Regions from separate parts of the Homo sapiens genome. Here regions 1 and 2 are each linked to region 3. Evidence: fine-mapped expression QTL. A gene starts in region 3. Each other region holds a variant in brackets. All regions are shown on one strand. Distances are between the middles of the regions. Region 1 overlaps AKNAD1 (AKNA domain containing 1). Region 2 overlaps CLCC1 (chloride channel CLIC like 1). Region 3 holds the start of CLCC1 (chloride channel CLIC like 1).

The links.
Region 1: its variant is fine-mapped to the expression of CLCC1 in follicular helper T cells (Schmiedel 2018, PIP 0.91).
Region 2: its variant is fine-mapped to the expression of CLCC1 in whole blood (TOPMed, PIP above 0.99).

Annotation. Positions count from the first base shown.
Region 1 is chr1:108,823,063-108,830,073 of GRCh38, reverse strand. It overlaps AKNAD1 (AKNA domain containing 1), which reads left to right. Exons shown (of 16, transcript NM_152763.5): 11 at 2,772-2,869; 12 at 6,386-6,508; 13 at 6,597-6,704. LOC105378891 (a long non-coding RNA gene) reads right to left here. Exons shown (of 5, transcript XR_947687.3): 2 at 6,356-6,424. Among named protein-coding and RNA genes, the nearest start is that of AKNAD1, 31 kb to the left of the region's middle. The variant G/A (reference allele first, on the strand shown) is at 3,332.
Region 2 is chr1:108,936,206-108,943,216 of GRCh38, reverse strand. CLCC1 (chloride channel CLIC like 1) reads left to right here. Exons shown (of 13, transcript NM_001377458.1): 8 at 1,719-1,812; 9 at 3,075-3,172; 10 at 3,435-3,581; 11 at 5,799-6,140. Among named protein-coding and RNA genes, the nearest start is that of CLCC1, 24 kb to the left of the region's middle. The variant G/A (reference allele first, on the strand shown) is at 3,617.
Region 3 is chr1:108,959,677-108,966,002 of GRCh38, reverse strand. CLCC1 (chloride channel CLIC like 1) reads left to right here and starts at 2,519. Exons shown (of 13, transcript NM_001377458.1): 1 at 2,519-2,642; 2 at 3,534-3,694. RefSeq lists silencers at 2,724-2,963, 3,102-3,396 and enhancers at 3,324-3,443, 3,816-4,316, 4,317-4,817.

The sequences.
Region 1 (7,011 bases), 140 kb after region 3:
AGCCCCCCAGTCCCAGGAACAAGCCTCATCCCTCTTCTCAGGGCTGATTTCTTCCCATTCCTAAGGACGAAATCTTCCAGAGCTAACAAGCTGTAAATCATGTAAAATCCTCAGGAGAAATCCTTTGTTTTTGAAACACCCATTGGTGCAACTATTAATCTGTGTCGATTCAGTATCATTTATTTGAAGCTTCTTTCAGGTAGCGAGAGATGTTACCTCTAAGCTCACTGTGGACTCCGGCCAAAGCTCGGCTCATTGACCTTTGGAAGGTCAAGAGTCAGGGAGGCAGCAGGTGTTTAGCAACCACTGTTATATGTACGTAATGGATTCTAATAGAAGCAGATGACAGGGTCTGAAAGACTGAGGCTTCCTGTTAGAAAGCATTCCATTGTGGGAATGGGCACCTGCCTTAAGAGTTCTAATGAGTGTCCACCCCTGAAAAAAGAAACTGCATGAAGCTCGTGCTAAAAATGGTCATGTGTCATTGTGTGTGGGTCATTAAACCACCATGTCAGTCATCAGCTTTGAGCTGCCCTTTAATCCAAGGGGCACTCATGAAGCTTACTCACTGAGTCATCCCAGGCCTACTATTTTTATTTATTGAATTAAAGTCTAATTTTGGATTTTTAAAGGTTTTACTAAGTATAATGAAAGTATTTTGACATTAAAGAACCATTTTTATTAAGCACTCAAGGTACTAAATTTCTCTCTTCTAAATTCCTAGTCTAGACCCTACAGAAGTACATTAAGTACCAAGACAGGGACCAATGTTCCAGACTAAATAATACTTTTTTATGATAGACAAGCTGGAAAGACAAGCACAACCAAGTGTAAAATCAAATCTCACAGTGAATCCACTGCTGGGGAGTGATGAGAAGATACACATGACTTATGAATTAAAATCTTGTAACTTACATAATCCCTGAGGAATTATTGATTGAAGGGAGGACTATATATTCTTTCTGTTAGAAGATTAAATCTCTCTCTGATGGGACTTGTCCTTTATGAAGCTTGCTGAGGTACATACTGTTTTCAGGATATTTGTAAATTGTTTATATATAAGTGGATAAATTACATATGTATAAAATGTAAAATATGCTTATCCCTTTATGTTATTTCTGATGCAAAACTTTGGATTTAAGTGTGTACTTTAGCTGCTTTGTCTTGTTGAAAAACTGTCTTCTCCAGAGGAATTATGTTTGGCCAGAAGATTTGAGTACACAAAGGAGTTTAAAAGCAGAAAAAGTCCTGTGTTGGACTGCATGCACTTGAGTGAGATCCAAGTTTCCCACTTTGGAGAGCAGATGTTCAAATGCCCCAGAGGAGAAGGGTGGAGACAGAAAATGAGGTGTGAGAAAATATGTGACTCAAGAGGACAGCATGTTTTTCCAAGAGGAGGGAAAGAGCCTGGCTTCTCAGCCCCAGCCCCACAAACCCGCAGCCCCATCCCTTCTCCGCCAACAGCAGGCCAGGGCACAGCGCGGCGAGCATGTGTTTGCCCAGCAATGCCTTGGGCTCAAACCCTAGCCCTGGGCAATCTGCCTCATTTATGCCAGGATATCTCGGGCACAGTGCCTTCCATACTAAGAATGAACAACTTTCCCTGGGGGCTATGACTGTATCCCAGGAGCTTAGCAAGAGCTTTGTTCAGAACTGTTATTAATTCGAATTCCTTTGGAGGAGTTGGGATTTCTGAGGAGGAGGGAGGAAGCTGCAGGTGGGCCACAGGAAGGCTCCTGAACAATGTCCATTGCAGTTGCTTCTTTCTGACGCCACCTGGTGGCCATGTGCAACTAAAATCACCTTCACGTGCTCCCTCAGCCTTTAGTCCCACAGACACCCGGCAAAGCCCACTTTGCTGGAGTTGTTGGATGTAATCAGCTTGTACTTCCAGGACCAAAGCTACGTGACCCATTACTGACGTATAGCATAGTTTCTTCCCCTGGTAGGAACTGTTTGTTTGTTTGTTTGTTTGTTTGTTTGTTTTTGAGATGAGGTTTTGCCATGTTGCCCTGGCTGACCTTGAACTCCTAGTCTCAAGCCATCCACCCTCCTTGGCCTCCCAAAGTGCTGGGATTACAGGCATGAGCCACCATACCCAGCCTGGAATGGATTTTGATGCATGAGGAAAACTCCAAATTTTATAATTCCATACTTCAAATGTGTTTTGTGAATGTGTATGTGATGATTAGATATTAACCTCGGCAGAACAAAACATTTATTTTTCATGTCTTGTATACATTTTCTTTTTTTTTTTTTTGAGTAGGAGTCTCGCTCTGTCACCCAGGCTGGAGTGCAGTGGCGCGATCTCGGCTCACTGCAAGCTCCGCCTCCCGGGTTCCCGCCATTCTCCTGCCTCAGCCTCCCGAGTAGCTGGGACTACAGGCACCCACTACGGCGCCCAGCTAATTTTTTGTACTTTTAGTAGAGACAGGGTTTCACCGTGTTAGCCAGGATGGTCTCGATCTCCTGACCTCGTGATCCGCCCGCCTCAGCCTCCCAAAGTGCTGGGATTACAGGCGTGAGCCACCGCGCCTGGCCTGTCTTGTATACATTTTCTTATCAGGCCAAATTGTGCTGGGGTGCAATTTCTTGTAGAAAAGCTCTCAAACAGGCAGGCAGAGGAGAGCTCTGTGTAGAGGATGACAAGCCCCTCCTACACTGTTCCAGGCTCTAATATAACAAAATTTAACGTTTCAACTTTACCAAAACTTTCCCTATCTATTGGAAATGCACTAAAAGTTTACAGGATCTTATGCACCTTTTTTTAGGAAGCAAAACGTGGAGAAAAAGGGCCACGGAAGGATCAACTGTGGAAGATTTTCAATTGTCCTTCATGAAAAGGCACCACACTCAGATTCAACTCCCAGTAAGTTGATGGGCTTGGGCTGGGTGCTCATTTTTCAGTGTCCCTCCCCATGGGGTCTGCTCGCAGTAGGCACCAGCTTGCCATCTGCCACTCCAAGAGCATTTCCCTACACTAGGATGTTGCATGTTGTATTTATTTATTTGCAAAATGTAAAGAATTAATAGGCTGGGCATGGGGGCTCATGCCTGTAATTCCAGCACTTTGGGAGGCTGAGGCGGGTGGATCACTTGAGCTCAGGAGTTCAAGACCAGCCTGGCCAACATGGTGACATTCCATCTGTACAAAAAAAATACAAAAATTAGCCAGGTGTGGTGGCTCACGCCTGTAGTCCCAGCTACTTGGGAGACTAAGGTGGGAAGATTGCTTGAGTCCGGGAGGTTGAGGCTGCAGTGAGCCATGATCATGCCACCGTACTCCAGCCTGGGCGACAGAGTAGGACCCTGTTTCAAAAAAAAAAAAAAA[G/A]AAAAAGAAAAGAAAAGAAAAAAAGAATCACTTTCAATAAGATGTGGTTAAGTAGAGTAAAGCATGAACACCTGTTTCTAGCTGAAAATGAAGGACTCCATGGACTCAATCACAAGATGTCATTCAGTCTGTCCATCCTCATCCTTCCCACATGACCCATAACTGTACCTGGTAAGGTTACTGGCTACGTGAGAATTGCTGCTGCTTTGGATATATGCATTTCATAGAAGCAAAGAAAGTTGGAGCTGGGAGGTGCCCCAGTACACGCAATTCAATGGCTTTTAGTCATAAGATCCTTTTTTTCAAAGATAGTTTAAGGAGAGAAACATCTAGCAGAACTGCCCTGGGAGAAGAGGTGGGGCTGGAGGCCTCTGCTCAGGCAGCTTCTGAGCTTAAAAATCACCTCTGAGCCTAACCTACCTACCCAGCTTGTCTCCCCAGCTTATGCACCAGGAAGCTGCACTGGAGAGCTACCCAGGCTTTCTTACATCTGCACTGCCTGTGGCCCAGAGCCATGCCTCCAGCTCTGCCTTCTGTTATGTCACACTTGGTTCTGCACTGGCTTCTCTGTAGATGACACATTTCCAAATAATAATAGGGTTCATTGATTGAAGACGTATTATGCCAGATGGTATAACAAAGTAGGAGTTTTCCAGGTGTAATCGGAGGGTCCCTGGGGTTTCCTGAAACCCTTTCGGGGGGGCCACCAGGTCCTTCCTTTACCAGCCATATAGCTGTGCAACGCTAGTATTACAGGCAACTGATGGAGATGCAGTTATGGAATCCAGTTGCCTTTTATTAAGCCAGATATTCAAGATATTTGCCAAAACGTAAAATGATGCCACTCTTCTCACTAAATTTTTTAGAAATAGTTATTTTCATTAAAAACTGCTATTTTGTTAATATGACATGGATTTATTACTTTTTAAATGCCATAATAAATAAAATTATCTTTTAAACCTCTCAGTTTAAAATTCTAAAAAAAAAGCGCCTTGGAACTGCTCATTTAGTTTTGGGAAATCTAAATGATTTGCACAAGCAAAAAATGACTAGTAATCTATACATTAGTACTTCTCTACCAATCCATCTGCAGTGGACTGAATGTTGAATGCTAGCTGTTCTCCAATGAGGGGGGATTTTCACCTCAGGTATATAAAATGGTATATATTATCATTTTATGGTAGATTAAAACCACAGAAACAAAGGCTGTTTAGGGTCCTCAATTTTAAGAGTGTAAAAGGGTTCTGGAATCAAAAGTTTGAAAACTGTTGCCAGTGTATGTCACATAACTCTCACAACATCCCTGTAATGCAGGAATGATTATCTTTATTTTATAGATAAGGAACTAGAGGCTCAGAGAAATTAAGTGACTTGACAGGACCAAAGAGTGAGTGTGAGTGAGTGTATTAGCTATCTATAGCTGTGTAACAAAGTATCCCAGAACTTAAGGCTGAAAACAACAAACATTTATCATCTTAGAGTTTCTGTGGGTCAGGAATTTGGGAGCACTTTAGCTGGGTGGTTCAGGCTCAGGGTCTCTCATGAGGTTTGGTCAAGTTGTCAGCCAAGGATGCCGTCATCTGAGGGCTTGACTGGGGCTGGAAGATCTGCTTCCAAGATGGCTCACTCACATGAGCATTGGCAGGAGGTCTCAGTTCCCTGACATGTGGGCCTCTCCAATAGGCTGCTTGAGTGTCATTATGACATGGCAGCCAGCTTCCCCCAGAGCAAGTGATCCAAGAGAGAAATACCGAGATGGAAGCTTCAGTGTCTTTCATGGCCTAGGTTTGGAAGTTATATGCCATCACTACCGCTTTATTTTATTTGTTAGAAGTGAGTCACTAAACCCAGCCTATACTCAAGGAGAGAGGAATTAGGCTCTACATTTTAAAGAGTGTCAGTTGGGTGTGGTGGCTTATGTCTGTAATCCCAGCACTTTGGGAGGCTGAACCAGGATTGCTTGAGCCCAGGAGTTCAAGACCAGGCTGGACAACATAGGGACCCAATATTTAAACATAAAAACAAAACAAAACAAAAAAAACACAGAAGGTTGAGGCTTATGATTGAGCCACTGCATTTCAGCCTGGGAGCAACAGAATGAAACCTTGGCTCAAAAAAAATAAAAATAGCACGTTAAAGAATTTGTAAACATATTTTCAACCATCATAGCTAATAAGTAGCAGAGCCAGGCTTCAACCCTGGGCCTTCAAACTCATTCCATTTGCTAATATGAAATGGATTTGTTATTATACAATGAAGTTACTATATATTGTATAATATGTTAAAAGTCAAGATGTCAGCCAGGGATGACTTCACTTTAATGTTAAAAATGAGTCTAACCATGAGTTCAGTAAGGCAAGAAGCATTGGAAGAGGCTTTGTCACTGCAGCATCTGTCCTGCAGCGAGATGTTGCTTGGACATTCAGTCCTGACATGCTCACCCGCCTGGCCCCAGGCTTTCATACTCTGGCCTTACCTGGAGTGCTGTTCCGTCCACAGCCTGCCAGACAGGTTCTAGACCTGCACCAGATACACATGCTGTCTGCTACTAGCTTCTTTGAGGCTAAGAGAGCAAAGTCATGATTCAGGTTCCCTTATAGGCTTATGAATGTCACATAGAAGAAACCCATCTTTCCAGTTGTCTGGATGACAAAATACAAGCTCTTGGCCACAGCAGGGTCTGAGAGAAAGAATGTGGATGTATCAGGCCAACTATGGAAAAACAAATACAAATACAAGGTTGTCTGATAGTTCAGTGGGCCAAATTGCCGCAGATCCATTCATTCAGCAGACCTTTACTAAGCCTAAATATGTATGCTACATCTTGAGATTTTCATACAAGAAATGTTAATTATCAAAACATTTCTCAGTTGTCAGAAGGGAATCCCAAATGTTACCCCAGGCTGGCAACTCCTCTTGGTGACACAGCCGGGACATTAAGCACTTTGGTGCCAAACACATACCCTGCACAGTTACAGCTCTGCTCTCCACACCGTATTTTATGACTATAATCAAGACACTTACCCTTCATTCATGCAACTTGGGCTTTTTCAGATTCTGATACAGGACACAGCTTCTGTTCTGATTCTGGCACTGAAATGCAGAGTAACAAATGTCAGGACTGTGGCACTAAGATTCCTACCTCCCGAAGAGCCTGCAGGAAAGAACCAACTAAAGGTAACACTCACCTGGGGCCTCAGAAAGGCGAGTGGGGACAGTCACTGTTCCCAGGCAATTAACTGTATTTTTAATCTTTTCTTCCCAGAATTTCATTATAGATACAACACTCCAGGACAGAATTACTCAAATCATAGCAAAAGAGGTGCCTTTGTCCAGCCCCATTCTTTAGATGAAAGTAAAAACTCTTCACCCTGTAAGTACATCTCCTGCATGACCCCATCCATATCAACAACCTAATGTCCCAGGTATGGGACATTCACATGACACTGGCCACTGCTTCCATCTGGGAAGCCCTGGCCTCTCCATTTTGCTGCCCAGGTCTTGTGCACTCACCTGACACTTCCAAATCCAGCCCTACATCTGGATGGCAAGAGGCTGAGCTGGGGCTGGAAAATATGAAATCGCAGTGACCAAGGACTTTGAAAGTTATTAAGGGCTACACCAGTGCAAGTTGGTAGCAACCCATAAATGTTTGCTGAACAAATAAATGACTTACTGGA
Region 2 (7,011 bases), 23 kb after region 3:
AGCCAGGTGGGTTGGGTGTGGTGGCTCATGCCTGTAATCCCAGCATTTTGGGAGGCTGAGGTGGGCAGATCACTTGGTCAGGAGGTCAAGACTAGCCTGGCCAACATGGTGAAACCCTGTCTCTACTAAAAATACAAAAATTAGCTGGGCCTGGTGACGTGCACCTGTAGTCCCAGCTACTCAGCAGGCTGAGGCAGGAGAATTGCTTGAACCTGAGAGGTTGCAGTGAGCCAAGATTGCGCTGCTGCACTCCAGCCTGGACCACAGAGTGAGGTCTGTCTCAAAAACAAGGAAGAAAAAAAAAAGAATAAAGCTATGTGGATACATTTAAAAATTATCATGTAGGTAATTTAGAGTATGTCATTCTATGTCTTTGCTAGAAATGATACCAAAATATTATTTTTTAAAAATTAGGTTATTTTTTGAATAAGTGGTATATTCATGGCAGAGAATTTAGAAAAGGCAGATACAAGGAAATTAATTTTTAAAATAACCTATAATTTTATCACCTAGAGAAAATCTGTCAGTAGTTTAAGGTATTTCTTTCTAGATTTTTCTAGATTTTAATTATCTTTCAAAGTTGGGATCATACTGTATATAGAAATTGGAAAGGACCACTACTGTTCCCATCAACATAGCATAAATAATAATCATTGAAAGAAAATTTTAGATCTTTCTAGCAGAGTGAGTCAAGTAGCCAAGTATTTTCAATGATTTCATCTGGTTAAAGCATTGTGACATTTCCTTAACCTTTTGCTGTAAGTATTATAGTATTTAGAACTAATTATTTACAAATTAAACACAGATTCTGTGTGGAAGGAAAGTTGCTTGAGTATTGTCACCTTAATGATTGTATATTGGTCATTGTACTGGAAATTATCCAGTGCAAAATAGGATATCATCAACTATAAAAGAAAATAAGAAGTAGTCATTTAATTTGTATGGCTAGAACTAATTGTTGTTGTTGTTGCTGTTGTTTTTGAGACAGTCTCACTCTGTCCCCCAGGCTGGAGTGCAGTAGTGAAATCTCGGCTCAATGCAACCTCCACCTCCCGGGTTCAAGCGATTCTCTTGCCTCAGCCTCCTATCTGGGACTACAGGCCCGTGCTATCACGCCTGGCTGAACTAATTTTTAAAAACAATATTTTTAGTAAAGTTTCCCTTTTTCATTATAATTACTTACAGAGAAGGCAATTGTAGTTAGTACTTTATGCTTACTTGTTGCATTAAGGCTGTACTTTTCCATGAACTGGAAATAGCTACTCTTTACAAATAATATGTTTTCCTATAATCCTAGCACTTTGGGAGGCTGAGGCGGGCGGATCACTTGAGGTCAGGAGTTCAAGACCAGCCTGGCCAACATGATGAAACCCCGTCTCTACTAAAAATACAAAAATTAGCTGGGCGTGGTAGCGGGCACCTTTAATCCCAGCTACTCGGGAAGCTGAGGCAGGAGAATCGCTTGAACCCGGGAGGTGGTGGTTGCAGTGAGCCGAGATTGTGCCACCGCACACCAGCGTGGGTGACAGGGCGAGACTCCGTCTCAGGAAAAAAAGAGAAAAAATAGTAATAATAATATGTTTTTTTTTAATTAAAAATTTATAACAGTCTGGTTTGGATGAATGGTAAAGACACTCTTTGAATGAAGGTCTTTTGGATGTGTAGGCCTAACCTTCATAGGTAACGGCCTCTCCTGGTTCCCTTTTGGTGTTGGGCAGCTAGCTTTTGCACAGCATCAGGCTGAAGTCGCCAAGATGGAGCCATTAAACAATGTGTGTGCCAAAAAGATGGACTGGACTGGAAGTATCTGGGGTAAGGTGTTTGTGCACTTGTCCTTATTTTGAATAGAAATTCTGAGAATGAAAGAACATAGAACAAAGAGAATGATAAAATAACAGGAGGCTTTCCATGACTGAATCTTTAATATCAGAAGAACATGCAAGAAGCATTTTAGGTTTAAAACCAGTGACTTTTTATGCTCATCTAAAGTCACAGGGAAGGAATAGAAGTTGTATATATGTTGGCTCTGATATTATCTGTCTTCCTTCATAAGACTGTGTGAAGGATCCTATGCTCGCTTTTGTTCATCTCGTTCTTTGCACAGGGTCTGGCATATTCTCAATAGAAGTTTATTAAACAAGTGAATGAATGTATATATGAATTAATATCCATCTTAAATTTAATGGCCTTATATTGACTTGTGAAATTTTATGTTGTAGCTTTACTTTTTTTTAACTACGGGAAAAATTAGTTTTTTTATTCTTTCACATTTTATAAACATTCTCATGAATGTTCACTACCTTTGGTTGTATGTATCTAGCAATGGGGATGGTTTAATAATGTTCCAAGGCATTTTATAAATGCAAGTCCATGACTGACACGGAATTCTGCAGATGGAATCCAAAATAAATGTTTCTTAAAAAGTTGTGGGAACTAAACCAATTCAGCCTTCCTTCCTGGCTTCAGTGGACAGTGAAATGCCTCCTCTAGCTCAGGCTAGTTTCCCAACGTATATAAGCCTGATTTGGAAAAATTAGAACTAATATTCCACTTTATTTTGTAAACTCCATAAAGAACTGACTTTTTAAATTAAAAATTTACTGAGGTAATTGTGGATTCACACAGTAAGAAATACTACAGAGAGAGCCCGTGTACCCTTTCCCCATTTTCCTCCAGTGGTGACATCTTGCACAGCTTTAATAGTACAATATCAGAGCCAGGATATTGACTTTGATACAATCCACCAGTCTTATTTCGACTTCCCATTTTACCTGTACTCATTTGTGTTTGTGAAGCATTGCTTTTAAAGTGTTTACCTTTTAGACATTTTTATAAAATACAATTTTTTATCTGCATAAAACATGTATAATTTGAATGGATTTTTAAAACATGATTTTGGACATAAGATGAAAAATTTAAAAATCAGCATTACAGGGAGTCTACTTAAAACTTAAGATAATTTAAAACTCATTGGTGGGTGGTCAGGGAGGGTCAAAACCAAAGTAATGTCTTGTTTGGGAATGAAATGCAACATTAAAAGAAATGATCAGTGTTTTGTCTGTTTCTCTAAACAGAATGGTTTAGAAGTTCATGGACCTATAAGGATGACCCATGCCAAAAATACTATGAGCTCTTACTAGTCAACCCTATTTGGTTGGTCCCACCAACAAAGGTATAGCATATATTTTGTAAAAATTACTTAAAGTCAGTCAGAAATCCCTTGTATTTTAAAGAACTTTAGTGTTTGAGTCATTTTGCTAATAAGCGTTTGTCCAAGAAAAAATACTTTTGCACAGTGATTTTCACATTAAAAATGGCACAACAGCATTTTAATTTATGTAACATACTTTCAGCATCAGTACTCAATGAATTTTGATGCATTCTGTACCTTAGTCCTGTGAGGAGAAAATTAAGTTGCTTTTCTCTCGTTTTAGGCACTTGCAGTTACATTCACCACATTTGTAACGGAGCCATTGAAGCATATTGGAAAAGGAACTGGGGAATTTATTAAAGCACTCATGAAGGAAATTCCAGCGCTGCTTCATCTTCCAGTGCTGATAATTATGGCATTAGCCATCCTGGTTAGTATTAATATATTAGCACTGTCGGGCCAGGC[G/A]CGGTGGCTCACGCCTGTAATCCCAGCACTTTGGGAGGCCTAGGCGGGCGGATCACGAGGTCAGGAGATCGAGACCATCCTGGCTAACACAGTGAAACCCTGTCTCTACTAAAAAAAATACAAAAAATTAGCCGGGCGTGGTGGCGGGCGCCTGTAGTCCCAGCTACTCGGGAGGCTGAGGCAGGAGAACGGGGTGAACCTGGGAGGCGGAGCTTGCAGTGAGCCGAGATCGCACCACTGTACTCCAGCCTGGGCGACAGAGCAAGATTCCGTCTCAAAAAAAAAAAAAAATTATACATATATGTATATTTATATATCTATCTATATATATTTATATTTATATATCTGTCTATATTTATATATTTATTATATATAATATATATTTATATATTATATATTTATATTTATATATATATATGCACTGTCAGTATTTAGCAAGATTTATATTAAATCTTAGTATTAATATTAGTAATACTGGTTAGTATTAAATATTAGCACTGTCAATATTTAGCAAGATTTACAGAAAAAAAGGCAATGCTAAAATTATTGGGCTTCTTTGATGTTGTAAATCAGGCTAAGTCACGCTTAATGAGAAGGCGATTTTTAAGTGATACAGATTTTTTTCCTCCCCTCTGCCCCTCTAAATGATACAGACATATTATACTTACTTGTATATTTTTATAATCAAGAAAGTAGTTCTCTAGTTTGATTGCATATGTCATAGCAGTGATTTAGAATAATAACCTCTTTTTAAATGTGTTAACCTTGGTAAATTAATACACAGGAAATAGGAAGTTGATTTCTGTCTCCCAGAAAGGGGGACTTCTTATTTCTAGTCAGTTTTTGCAGCAGTGAGAAGGGTAGAGCATTGAGTTTGACACAGAACCAGAAAGGGATGTGGAAGAACATGGGTATGCTGAGAAAGAGTTTGGGGATCCAGGAGCAGACATTAAGAAGAAATATTACTCGTCATCCCTCCATGGTCTATTCAGTGTTTTTTGTTATCGATTTTTTAGCTATTACCCAAGTAAAGCAGTTGTCGCATAAAACAAAAAGAACTCAGATGTGCCAAGGGAAATTCTCTTCCCTAAGGATACAAGATTCACTATCTCTGTTCACTTTGAAATCGTTTCTTTTTTGGTTTTGTTTTTTGGCTTGTGATTACAGGATTATGTGGTTGACGGGTATTTTTTTGTTAGGTGACATTAGTTCTATAGTCATAGTTTAGTCTCTGAAACTGAAATTATCAGCAGAGTCTTCACCATCTGTTTTTGTTTCATGTGCTCCCTCAGGAAAGTTATGCTCTTTGACTTTTGCTGCTTTTGTCTTCAAATAGTAGTGTTTGAAAAACTAGTACAGAAATTTTCAAAGTTTCTGTTCTCAGGACCTCTTTGCAGTCTTAAAAATTGAAGCCCACAAACAGCTCTTACTTAAGGTGATTATATTTATTGATACTTACATATTAGGAGTTAAAACAAATTTAAAACATACGAGTACTGTACACGCAAGCATGCATCCCCTGAGTCTGAGTGAGGCTGTCACTCTAGCATCTGGAATGCTCCGTTGTATATTCAGGAGGGGACAGTGAAAAAGACAAATAATAATGTCTTTGTATTATGAAAAGTTTTGATCTCATAGATCTCCTGAAAGTCTCAGGTATCCCCCGGGGGTCCCTGGGCCACACTGTAAGGAACTGCTGCCTACTTTTTCCCATGGAATGTGAATCAAAACCTGTTGAATTTTAGCTGTAACTTAAGCCTAGTTTATATTTGTAAAAAGAAAATGTACAGAAGATTGTTTACATAATGATATACAACTTTAAATATTTTCAGCATTTACCTTATATGATGGGCATGAATCTAGAAACATGAATAATTATCAGACTAGAACCTTCTAATTTAAATATCTAGGCTTCAGCCTGCCATTGTTATAGTTCAATCGAAATGTGTCTAGCTGATTAAAATGTCTACTGAAAGATTTATTAAGTTTTATTGGCCACTCTGGCCTTGTATTAATCTAAAGAGGTCTCTAATGAAAAAAAGTCAAATTAACATGTTTATGTCTATAAATGCCACAAGTAAGTTAAATTACATAACTTTGTTAGCACTCTGAATAAAATGCCTCATAACTTTTGTAAGTTAGCCATTGAGTCCTCAGGAAAATGTATTTCTTTTCCTTACAGAGTTTCTGCTATGGTGCTGGAAAATCAGTTCATGTGCTGAGACATATAGGCGGTCCTGAGAGCGAACCTCCCCAGGCACTTCGGCCACGGGATAGAAGACGGCAGGAGGAAATTGATTATAGACCTGATGGTGGAGCAGGTGATGCCGATTTCCATTATAGGGGCCAAATGGGCCCCACTGAGCAAGGCCCTTATGCCAAAACGTATGAGGGTAGAAGAGAGATTTTGAGAGAGAGAGATGTTGACTTGAGATTTCAGACTGGCAACAAGAGCCCTGAAGTGCTCCGGGCATTTGATGTACCAGACGCAGAGGCACGAGAGCATCCCACGGTGGTACCCAGTGTAAGTCAGCAACTCTTTTATTCTGCTGTCCCTTCATTACTGGTTCTAAATCCTTCTGGAAGAGGTCTGATTGTTTTTACTCTTTTACCCCTCACCCTTAATTATATCATGAGTGATACAGCCACTCACTCTCTCCCCTTTCTGGTCAAAAGTTAGTTCAGCTTCCTCAGAAGAAATAAAATTAGATTTAACTTTTATGTAAAATACAATTTAACAGTAGTTTGTTAGAGCAGATGGTAATTCATATGAACCTTCATGGGAAGCCAGCGTATGAGCATGACAGAAATTTCTATCTTTGAAGAGATCAGAGAGAAGGCATCACTGAAGGCCCGGAGCTCTAGGGAAGGTACAGTAGAGCCCTAAAGGATTAGCTGGATGGAAGAGTGGGCTGGGGCCAGGGATCAAAAACATTGCTTCCCCAAATCTTCAGTGTCATTGGCTGGCTAGACTATACTTTTTACCTGTAGAATGGTAAGAAGAAGTTTTTCACCATTATCAGTCTTTTAAAGGGACATTTCCATTTCTGTTTGAGAGAGGAATTTGTATTGTCATTTGAAATGTTTAAATTGCAGCTGTTAAACCTTTGAAACAGTTATGAGCATAATAGAATCTGGGAAATTATAGAATCCCTTCCCATAGTTTCATATAAAAATAAACATATCTACATGTATCTAGAAAGATGGACCAGGCGCGGCGGCTCACGCCTGTGATCCCAGCACTGGGAGGCCGAGGCAGGCGGATCACTGGAGGTCTGCAGTTCAAGACCAGCCTGGCCAACGTGGCAAAGCCCCATCTCTACTGAAAATACAAGAAAATTAGCCAGGCGTGATGTGGTATGCACCTGTAATCCCAGCTACTTGGGAGGCTGAGA
Region 3 (6,326 bases):
CTCCCAAGTAGCTGGCATTACGGGCCCACCGCTTTGCCTGCCTAATTTTTGTGATTTTACTAGAGACAGGGTTTCACCATGTTGGCCAGGCTGGTCTTGAACTCCTGCCCTTAAGTGATTCACCTGCCTTGGCATCCCAAAGGGCTGAGATTACAGGCATGAGCCACTGCAACTGGCCTCAGGTTTACTTTAGAATGCCCTTGGCTGAGAGGATGGGCCTATTCAGTTGGTTGGGGGGCTTAGAATTTTATTTTCGTTTTATAGTAAGAAGCCAAAGGACACAACAGAGTGAAAAGGCAACCCACTAAGAGGGAGAAGATGGGGCCGGGCATGGTGGCTCATGCCTGTAATCCCAACACTTTGGAAGGCTGTGGCAGGAGGATCACTTGAACCCAGGAGTTTGACACCAGCCTGGGCAATACAGGGAGACCCTGTCTCTAAAAAAAAAAAGAAAAGAAAAAGTGGGAGAAGATATTTGCAAATCCTATCTGATAAGGTGGTTAATATCCAGAATATATAAGGAACCAAAACACAACAAAAACCCATTAAAAAATGGGCAAAGCCAGGAGTTCAAGGCTGCAGTGGGCCATGATCATGACACTGCACTTCAGCCTGGGTGACAAAGCGAGACCCTGTCTCTTAACAAAACAAAATAAAACAAACAAAACAAATGGGTAAAGGACTTGAATAGACATTTCTCCAACAAACATATACAAATGGCATGACCAATAAGCACAAGAAAAGATGCTCAACATCACTGGTCATTAGCGAAAGGCAAATCAAGACCACAGTGAGATACCTCACACCTATTAAGATGGCTACTATACAAAAATAAAAAGATGTCAGTGGAGATGTGGGGAAATTGGAACTTGTGCACTCTTGGAGGGAATGTAAAATGTTGCAGCCACTATGGAAAAGAGAATGGCAGTTCCGCCGGGCGCAGTGGCTCATGCGTGTAATCCCAGCACTTTGGCAGGTCGAGGTGGGTGGATAACGAGGTCAGGAGTTCGAGACCAGCCTGGTCAACATAGTGAAACCCCATCTCTACTAAAAATACAAAAATTAGCCAGGCATGGTGGCAAACGCCTGTAGTCACAGCTACTCAAGAGGCTGAGGCAGGAGAATCGCTTGAACCCGGGAGGCAGAGGTTGTGGTGAGCCGAGATCGTACCACTGCACTCCAGCCTGGGCAACAAGAGTGAAACTCCATCTCAAAAAAAAAAAAAGTACGGCAGATCCTCAAAAAATTAAAAATAGAATTACTACATAATCCAGCAATTCCACTTGTGTATATATATTCAGGAGTTGAAAGCAACAGATATTTGAACATCTGTGTGTATACCCAAAAGGGTTAAAAAACAGATATTTGTATATCCATGTTTACAGTATTATTTCACAGTAGCCAAAAGTGGAAACAACCTGTTATCCATTAACAGATGACTGAATGAACTGGTATATACATAAAATGGAATACTATTCAGCCTTAAAAGAAATTCTGACACGTTACCACATGGATGAACCTTGAGGACATTATGGTAAGTGAAATCAGTTACAAAAAGACAAATGCTGTATGAGTCCTTATATGAAATACCTAGAGTAGTCAAATTCATAAAGACAGAAAGAATGGTAGTCGCTGGGAAGGAGGGAGGGGAAGAATGAGGCGTTACCACTTACTGGGTACAGAGTTTCAGTTTTGCAAGATGAGTGCTGGAGATGGATGGTGGTAATGGTTGCATAACAATGTGAATGTATCTAATACCACTGAATTGTACCTTTAAAAATGGTTAAGATAGTAAATTTTACCATCTTCACAGTTTCCCGAGATTGCAAGGCCAGCAGTTAAAGACAAAAACAAAACTACTTCCAACTGCCCTACAGTGTGCAGACCTTTCCCTTGTCCTGCCCTGAGTAGAACTACAGTTGTCATTCGTGATCCTCCCTTTAAAAAATTATGCTTGTGGCTAGGCGCGGTGGCTTACACCTGTAATCCCAGCATTTTGGGAGGCCGAGGCGGGCGGATCACCTGAGGTCAGGAGTTCGAGACCAGCCTAGCCAACATGGTGAAACCCTGTCTCTGCTAAAAATACACATTAGCTGGATGTGGTGGTGCGCGCTTGTAGTCCCAGCTGCTCGGGAGGCTGAGAGAGGAGAATTGCTTGAACCCGGGAGGCAGAGGTTGCAGTGAGCCGAGCCGAGATCGCGCCACTGCACTCCAGCCTGGGCAACACTGTGAGACTCTGCCTCAAAAAAAAAAAAATCATGCTTGCGTTTCATGGCGAATGTTACACATTCAAACTTATCAAATATATTAATAGTAAGAAAATAGGTTTCCTATCCGTTGTATATATTTGAGTTCCAGGCGAGATTTCCTTCGCAGAAAGAGTTCCGCAGATGAAAAGTAAAAGAAAATCCGCGGCGAAAATAACCCGCGCGCAGAGGCCGGTCCCGCTACTAGCCCCGCCCAATCAACGAGGCCAATCAGCGGCCCGCAACGGGGGAGGGACACGCAGCCGTCAGCCGAACAATTCGATGACGAGGCCCAGGAAGCACGCTGAAACCCTGGGCGGCGGCAAGCTGTGCGACCTCTTCTGCGGCCGGCCTGGGCAGGTGTCTTCCTCGAGAGGCAGGCAGGGGATCCCGGACGTGAGTCCGTGCAGTTGGGTGTGTTGTGCGGCGGGTGGGGCGGGTTACCCGCCGTTACGCCCTGGCGGGTCCAGCGGACTCGCGGCGCAGACGCTGGGGAGGCCGCAGGCGCGACCCGGGGCGGGGACCGTGCTAGCTGCGTGCGTCCGCTGCGGCCTGTGGGTGCCCCGGGCTCCTACCTCAGCTCCCGCGCCGGCGGCTGCCTGTCCGCCGCGGTTGCGCGCGTTCCGGGGAGGTGCTTGGCCCAGAGAGCGGCCTACGGAGAAGGCACAGCGAGGGCAAAGCGAGACCTGAGCGCACGTTGAATTCTGTTGGCTTTGGTTATCTCTGAAAACTTTAAGCATAATTTGAATAAATGCTGTCAGCAGAATAGCTCGGATTTAGTTGTAGTTAATTTTCTAAAACTTCAAATCTGTGAATTAACACAGTTAACAACAACAACAAAAACGGACACAAAACAACCTCCAAAATGGATTTTTTTTTTTTTTTTGAGACGGAGTCTTGCTGTGTCACCCAGGCTGGAGTGCGGTGGTGCTATCTCCGCTCACGGCAACCTCCGCCTTCCGGGTTCCAGCGATTCTCCTGCCTCAGCCACCTGAGTAGATGGGACCACAGGTGCGCGCCACCAGGCCCGGCTAATTTGTAAATTTTATTTGTAGAGAAGGGGTCTCCCTGTGTTGTCCAGGCTTGTCTCTGACTCCTGGGCTCAAAGGATCTTCCCATCTTGGCCTCCCAAAGTGCTGGGATTACAAGCGTGAGCCATTGCGCCTGGCTCCAAATCTGATTTGAGTGTAAAAAGTTAGACACACCATAAGCTGTAGGTTTATTACTGGGTGGTGAAAAACAATTCAGGTTTTCTTTATAATAGTGATTATGAAGTGTTCTTCCCAGACTAGCTTTATCGTCATCTGGGAAATTGTTAAAAATGCAAATTCGCAAGTTTGAGAGCCATGGTTCCAAGAAACTGCATAAGCATACGAAATAAGTTGCAGCCTCCCGACTTATACCCTGGTACTTCTAGTCTAAAACAGGATTTGACTCTACTAATCCAGGTTAGTCTTGCCTTTCCCATTACTCATGTGCTTTCGTTGAAACCAAAGACTTTTTCTTTTGTGCCCATTTCTACTCACTGCCTGGCCGTCTGCACGACGATCTGTGTTTCCTGGTAGTTCTCCAGTCTAGTAGCTACTATAAACTACTCTCCCTATTTCCCGCTCTGTGGAGATGTCGTTCCAACAGGTCCTCTCCACTCTAAGACCCTATCCTCTCAGAGAAGCCCCTGAGAGCCATTAGTACTTTTGCCCTGGAGAGGCAGTTTAGGTAGAGCCAGTCTGGGTTCTACCACTTACTAGCTTGGTGGTCTTAGGCAAGTTACTTTGTGTGATCTGTAAAATGAAGATGAGTGAAGATAAGAGTACTACTTCCAGTAGTTTTGTGAGGATTAAATTAATGTAACAGTGCTTAGCACATAGTAACAAAATATTAGCTACTTTTTTTTTTTTAGACGGAGTTTTGCTCTTGTTGCCCAGGCTGGAGTGCAATGGCGCGATCTCGGCTCACCGCAACCTGCACTCTCTGGGTTCAAGCAATTCTCCTGCCCCAGCCTCCCGAGTAGCTGGGATTACAGGCATGCGCCACCACGCCCTGCTACTTTTGTATTTTTAGTAGAGACAGGGTTTCTCCATGGTGGTCAGGCTGGGCTGGAGCTCCCAACCTCAGGTGATGCGCCCGCCTTGGCCTCCCAAGGTGCTGGGATTACAAGCGTGAGCCACCGTGCCCGGCCTTTAGCTACTATTATACATATTATAATTTAAAAATTATTAGTACCGAAGCCTGAGACAGGAGAGAAATGGTAAAAATAGTAGGGACTGCGGGAGAGAGAAAGAGTAGTGTCCCCTGACAAGTACTAGAATGACATAGGTGCCACCATTAAACGAAACTAGCTAGGATGGTTACTTTCGATTAACACTTTGCTACTCAAGAGTGTGGTCTGCGGCATCACCAGGAGCTTGTTAGAAGTGGAGATCTCAGACCTACCTCAGATTTACTGAATCAGAATCGTTTTTTTTTTTTTTTAACAAACTCTTCAGCAGGTTTAGATGTAGCTTTGTTTGGAGGAAGTGTGAGATTCGTTTTAGGATTTCTCAAGGAGTTCCAGCCTTCAATCAGTGACCATGGGGATCTGGCAGGAGGGCTTGAATTTCTAGCTGATTCTTCTATTCTGTCTTACCCTCCTGTCTTCCATCATTTCTGCATTGCTAATCTCTATCCCTGGAGAAATCTATGGAACTGCTGGTTATTACTGTAGAAAGTAACATAGTTGCCAATAGTACGACTTTGTGGATGTCACAGTCAAAACTCAACTGCCTGGCTGGCACAGTGGCTCACCTGTAATCCCAGCACTTTGGGAAGACAAGGCGGCGGGCAGGGGGATCCTTTGAGCTCAGGAGTTCGGGACTAGCCTGGGCAACATAGCAAGACCCTGTCTCTATAAAAAAGAAAAAAAAATCTCAACTGCTTGACAGGCTTTTTATTCACTTCCCTTTGTATAATGCCTCCTGTAGTACCTTTTTTCCCCTCCAAATCTCCGTTTCCCCCATCCTAACCTCCTCACAGTGTTAGAAATGCAAATTACTCTTAATTTCTCTGTCCACTTCATATCATATTATAATATGAAATCTGTCAGTTTCTCTTTTTACTTTAGAAATTTTGTCTTCATCCATCTTCATTCATTTCTATTTATGGAGTATATAACCTCATTGCCTATGAAGAACCCTTCCCGTAACCTTAATTTCATGCACTCCCATCTTGGAGCCTCTCTCCAGTTTACACACTCCCTTTGTCACCTACTTCTTAACCACTTAGAGAATTAGGCTTCTCACTGTCATTCTCTGAAAGGTCATAAATGGCCAACTAATTAACCAATCCAATGGCTTTTTTCCAGACTTTGTTCCTCTCCACTTCTCTGAAGTATTGAATACGCTTGATACCACTTTCTTGAAATTAAGTCCCTCCTTAGTTTTTGCCCATTGCATATTTTGGCTTGTCTTCTATTGCCCTGATTAGCCTTCACTCTCCTCTCTGGTATTTGCTTCTTCCATGGCTTTCTTCCTTAGTTGAACTCTTAATTTTTTCCAATAAAGTATACAGTTATTCAGTATTTCTAAGTATCTCCAGAGCATAACAGTGATTTTAGTGTTTTTTGTTTGTTTGTTTGTTTTTTAATTGAGTCAGGGTCTTGCTCTGTCACCCATGCTGGAGAGCAGTGGCGTGATCTCGGCTCAGTGCAGCTTCAACCTCCCCGGCTCAAGTGATCCTCCCACCTCAGCCTCTCCAAGTAGCTGGAAATATAGACGTATGCCACCACACCCAGCTAAATTTTGTTTCAAGTTTTGTAGAGATGGAATCTCCCTAAGTTGCCCAGGCTGGTGTCGAACTCCTGGGCTCAAGTGTTCCTCCTGCCTTGGCTTCCCAAAGTGCTGGGATTACAGGCGTGAGTCGCCACAACCGGCCAGAAACTATTGTTCTATTTATTTTGTGCAGAGCTTTGGTTGTTCAGGCAGGAGGGTAAATCTGGTCCCTGTTACTCCATCTTGGCCAGGAGTAGGAGTTGGGGAAGTGCTTTGGGAGTATAGAGTCCCCCCTTTACCCTTGGAGTATACATTCTAAGATCCTAGTAAATGC